2 separate regions of the Homo sapiens genome follow, and region 1 is linked to region 2. A link means that fine-mapping ties the variant in region 2 to the plasma level of a protein whose gene starts in the linked region. Region 2 holds a variant in brackets. A gene starts in the other region. All regions are shown on their forward strands. Region 1 holds the start of CD5L (CD5 molecule like). Region 2 overlaps EXOC2 (exocyst complex component 2).

The links. A credible set is the group of variants that fine-mapping cannot tell apart. PIP is the chance, under the fine-mapping model, that this variant and not a neighbour inherited with it causes the effect. The UK Biobank Pharma Proteomics Project read protein levels with antibody pairs (Olink). The fine-mapping took linkage between variants from a reference panel, not from the people measured, so its PIPs are less certain.
Region 1: CD5L starts here. The variant in region 2 is the best candidate, but not a certain one, in a credible set for the plasma level of the CD5L protein (UK Biobank, PIP 0.67).

What each region holds. Positions count from the first base shown.
Region 1 is chr1:157,840,239-157,843,274 of GRCh38, forward strand. CD5L (CD5 molecule like) reads right to left here and starts at 1,570. Exons shown (of 6, transcript NM_005894.3): 1 at 1,436-1,570. The coding sequence starts at 1,463.
Region 2 is chr6:483,364-485,863 of GRCh38, forward strand. It overlaps EXOC2 (exocyst complex component 2), which reads right to left. Exons shown (of 28, transcript NM_018303.6): 28 at 1,791-2,500. Among named protein-coding and RNA genes, the nearest start is that of IRF4, 93 kb to the left of the region's middle. The variant C/G (reference allele first, on the strand shown) is at 1,090.

The DNA of each region.
Region 1 (3,036 bases), not on the chromosome of region 2:
CATGGGGGTTTCTTCCTGCAGGATCTCTGTATATTTGGACTCCTTTCTCCATAAGGTCCCTCCTAATGCTGTAGAGAGTCCTGGGCCCTGTAACCTCCAGGAGTCCCTGAGGCCTATGCATTTTCAACTGCAAAACACCCACCACCCCCATCTTATAGGATTTTTCAGAAGGTGCAAATATCTTTGGACCTCCAGCCTACAGTTTTTCAGGCAGATTCAAGTAGTTCAGTGGTTTATCCTGGAATATTTTCTTTTCTTGGTTTCCAAATAACCTCTCATTACCCTCATTCCCTTAATCTTCAGAATGTGGCCACTCTCAGGCTCAATGAGGCCTTTTCTGCAACTATCCAAAACTCAAGGTTATATTATACATATGGGAATCATTGCATAACCCCAACCCAACATGTGTACATGTGAAGGAAAGTGAGCATGGCAAGCCTGATATGCAGGTGCAAACGTGATATAGCCAGTAAGTGACTTGGAAGCTCTGCAGTAGGGTGGGTAACTGCAGAAGGCACAGGCCAGAAAGGCTTCATGAAGCAGGTGGAAGTGCACATGAGCCTGGAAGACCCAGTAGTATATCCATGAGGGGCAGGACTAGCCGTTGAGTGATGTGGGGGATGCATGGATGTTTAAGATGTGGTCAGTACCTTACATTGAACACAAAAGTGTCCAGTTGAGAGGATTGTGTGGGCTTTGGTGATGTACTAGATCATCAAGACATAAAAGTGGATGTGATTGATTAGCATAGGGATTTACCAGGCATTGTTAGATGCTTTATATTAGTTATCTTATAAAAAAAAATACTCCTAAAAACCTCTGAGGAACATAATATTATCCTCACTTCATAGATGAGAGAGCAAAATTTCAGAGAGGTATGGTAACCTACGAATTCACACCGCTAAGAAATCAAAACGGCAGGATTGAAATCCAGGTCTCCTTGGCTCCACAATCACCAGATTAACTAGGTTAATCTCTAGATTACTCTAAGCAATGAGAAACTGAAGAAAACTAGAAAAACATTATATGAAACACTTTTCAGAGGAAACCAGACAATATGATCAATGAAAGGTGATTGTCTTGCAGTTCTACTTCCTTTCCTGGCTCTACTTGCTGCTGCCCGGTGCCCATTCATTTGTCTTCTTACTAATAGTACATTTAGGAACACTTATGTAAAAAGAGAAATGGGATAAACTATCATGACTCTGTCATTACAAATATAAGAAAATAGAAAAAAATCTGTTAAAGTGAATTACAAATGTGTATGGATTAAGCGGCTTTTTAAGGATTAGAATAGTTACCAAATGTAAAAAGGAGGAAGAAGCTCATCCTTGAAAAACATCTAAATCTGTTCCAGGTTGGCGGGGAGAAAGTTCTCCTAATCAAAGTGCCAGAAAACTCTGAAGCCTAAACCAACAGGTGCAGAGATACTCACCAAGGATCAAGGAGAATAGCAGAGCCATGACCAAGGCAGGTGAAGGTGATGAGCTGAAATTTAAGGCTAGAAGGAGGTCCCCAAGCAGCAATATTTAGTTTTAGCTGCAAGTATGTTAAGAGGAGGGACAAAGACAGGTCCTGAGTGCAGGCAAAGCATTATCAGATGATCAGAAACCAATAGACTCGGGGGGCAGAGCTGACAGAGCTGGACTTGCTGAAATCAGCATGTTCCAGAGGAAAGGAGGTGGCCAGAACTGGCGGAAAAATGCTGAAAACAAAATAGAAACAGGCTATCATGACTTGGTTCTGCTGTAAGTCCAGCTCCGTCTGTCTCTCCTACAGCCCCTTTGCTATGTAAACAGAGGAAACACCTCCCACAAGGAAAGGCAGGTGCCAAAAATATGGCCATCTCTCAGTAGAAGACAAGGCAGTACTTAGTCGCCAAGGATGGTTTGCAAGGGAAATAAGCCAATTTTGATTCCTTTACCCCAGAGGGAAGTGCCTAGAAAATTTGGAAGCCAGAGGCCATGGGATAAATGCAGAGTTGCCCTTGGAGGCATATCCCATAAAACATAATCCAGGGTCATGGTGCCAATCTCCACATACAGGCCTGGCTTTATTGTCTTCAAACCTGCTTTCTCACTGCTAAGCAGAGGGTCCAATATACAGATTTGTTATTTTTCTATGCTTGTGCTGGTGTATGCCCATCTTTGGAAGCTGGATGGAAACAGATCCCTGAGGTGAGGGGCATCATAATCATTGAACTCAAGTTGTCTGTAGGTCTAAGACATGATGGACAGAGATTAAGCAGTAAGACCCTCTCAGGCCCCTCTGCTTTGCTATATTATTAAGTATAGCTATGCTTCATGAGCTATTCTACTCCAGATTGATCAAGCAATCAATTTTGTATGCTGACATAATCTCTGCATTCCAAGCAGGGTAATTGTTCCTCTACAGTAATAATTTTTGCTTCTTTGTAATATTCAGGTAACTCAGCAGAAAGCTTGGTTCATTGTAGGCATTCATTTTTAATCCCACATTTCTTCATTTACTTAGTATTGTATTCAATGAAAAGTTTTTAGCACTCATGAATGCCAGGCAATGTGATGGGTGGAGGCAGTACATGAAGGAACAAGGGATAGTTTTGCACTGTAAAAATATATGGTCTAGTAATTGCAATAACATGTGGAAACCACTGTTAAGAGAGAAAAGTATAACAAACTTTGGAGGCCAGGCGAGGTGGCTCATATCTGTAATCCCAGCACTTTGGGAGGCCGAACTGGGAGGATAGCTTGAGCCCAGGAGTTTGAGGCTGCAGTGAACTATGATCAGGCCACTGAACCTCAGCCTGAGTGACAGAGTGAGATCACATCTCTAAAATAAGAAAAAGAAATGAAACCTTGGAGGAAATGGTTACTATGTTTGGAGCTAATCAGAGAAGACTTCACAGCAATGATGATACTTGAGCAGGGGTTTAGGATGAGTTAAGTGGAGAATCAGAATAGGAAAAGATTTTGCTATGCATATGCAGACAAGTGAAACAGCATTACTTATTCAAGGAACCACAGGTAGTTTGGAATGACTGGATTACAGCCTGCT
Region 2 (2,500 bases):
ATAACAACCATGAAAATATCAACAGTGACCACAAGAAGAAAACCAACGGCTTCCAGTCATGGTAAAACACTGTTGAAGGCACAAGACAAGCTTCACTGCCCACTTTGTCTAGGATTTTCTGTGCCTAGACAGGAGAAAGACACTCTGATATCCTACTGCCTTTCATTAGCCAAACTGCAAACAAGTTACCCAAAGACCCAGGTCTTGTCCGTAAGATGTTTATTGCTATATATTTCTAACCTGGCCAGGTACAGAAAGGCTTTCCAGTAATACACGTAATAAACCTCAATGTAATAAATCCTCCTCTGGGGGAGCAGAAATGAGATGAGATCAGCACACAAAAAGCATAATGGCCCTAGTATAGAGTAATATGCAACTGTGTTTAAAGCAAAGCTAAAATAATTATGGCTGCTGCTCTAATTGAGGAGTGATATATTAAATATATCTTTCAGAGCAGTTCACAGATCTATATGAAAATCTTTGCAACAGAACCAACAGATAAATGTTCAGTGACAAAAATGTATGCAAGTTTAGTCTATGCATAATTATTTTATGAATATTACATAAAATATATTTGACTTTTAGAAACCTAATCTTGATTTAAAAACTAGTTAAAATTTGTAACTTTTCTGAAAACATTACACAACACGCTTATGAAACTAACAGAATATCCCATAGCACGTGATCAAAACAGAAATACACACCACCACCTTGTACCAAATCCAGAATAAAAATATAATCTCTTCTATTTCTTCCCTTTAAAAAAATCTACATGCAAAGATGACAAGAGACAGGAGAATGAGTCAGTGTGCTCAGCCTAAGGCAATGATGCTTGTTTTGCAATGCCCAAATCATTTCTAGAATATGCTCTTTCATGGTACACTGATAAAGAAAGTCTTAGTAAAAAACCAAGTGATTTCTAATAGCTCTTTCCCATTCAAGTGAGGCCAGCTCAGCTAACTCACATGAAGCCATGCTGTGACCCACAAAGAACATGGGTGTGCTGGAAATGAAATGCCACTGGAGCACTGAAGTACCTTGAACCTCCCTAATTTGTTTTCTCAGCTGCCTCGTTAACTTGCTCCAGGT[C/G]CTGGTTTCTCTCTCGGCTTTCATCTAACTTATTTCATATTCATCTCCTCTTACCCACTAAACCAGGGTTCTGTAACTCAAGTAGCTCTTGAAATCCCCCTTTCTTCCAAGAAGTCCCCCCTGACTTGTTGGAATAGTAGTCCTTGAACTCCCTCACTTGGGTATGGGGTTTTTAGGCCTTTACCTTCCACTCTGAGCCATAAAAGCACTACCGGTTTCCGTGTTGCTACTGTTTATTAGCCTCTGGAATTGATGAACTTTCTCTGAGCTGTGACCCAGGTGGATGGATGTCAGAAAGCATATTCCGCTGGAAGGAAGAGCTGAGCAGTAGTGAAGTCAAGGACATACAGAGCCAGAGTGTGAACATGAGTCCTGCTACTTACTGCCTTGCAGTCTTACGGAAGTCACCAACCTCTCTCTAAGCCCTGATTCCTTCCTCTGCTAAATGGACGTGGCGGTAAGCTAGCCCACATGTATCATAAGGCTGTTGTGAGGATTCAACGAGGCACTTCATGGTGTGCCTCGCACATGGTAAGTCCCCAGCAAACAGAATTAGCAGGACCTGACAGATGGTTTCTGACAATGTGTTTACCAATACAGGGTTAACCAGAATGTAAGTATTTTGGGTGTTAACAGTAGAAATATGAAAATGTTGAAATAAAGACACTTAGGGAAAAATGTCAAGTAAATTACAACTTACATTAAAGGCAGATTCTTTATTGGCTGAATGTGCTGTAGTAGATATTTAAAATATCACAAACATTCATGATTGCAGTTTTTAAACTTAGCTCACAGTTGAGTTAGATACAACAGTTAACATACTTAGGAAAGACAATTCTTAACAGCTTTATCAAGCACATTTGTGAAAGATTAAACTTTCATTTCCAGTTACCATGATGTCCCCCCATACACCAAATGAACCAACACATTTATTTATTTTAAATAATGGAAACTGTACATGGCTACACTGTGCTCTAAAATTACTTGCATTAATGAGGACATTAATTTTAGCATTTAAAAAAAGAGATTTAAAAATAACCATAGAAAAACTTGAAAACCCTGACAAGCCGACTACAAAGAGAATTCCTCTCTGAAAATTTTCAGATGCGACGGTATGAGGGAGTTGGGTGGGCCGCTGACTCTGAGAGAAGTCCCGGTGACCTGAACCTATTCCAGTGAAGCCAGTCAGCAGTGAATGTGGGGCAAGTGCATGCGGCTGGTCTACAGCTCCCATTGCCTGGTGACCAAGGAGCATCCTGAAGTTTCAGAGAAGAGACTGTGTGACAGCAGCATTGTTCCAGCTACTGAGCAAGATCCTTCAGCAGGTAAGAAGTGGCAGAGACAGTCACCTGCTGAAGGAGCGGGCAGGGAGTTGGCCGTCCACGCGGAGCCTGGCCTTTCCGTTAGGGGA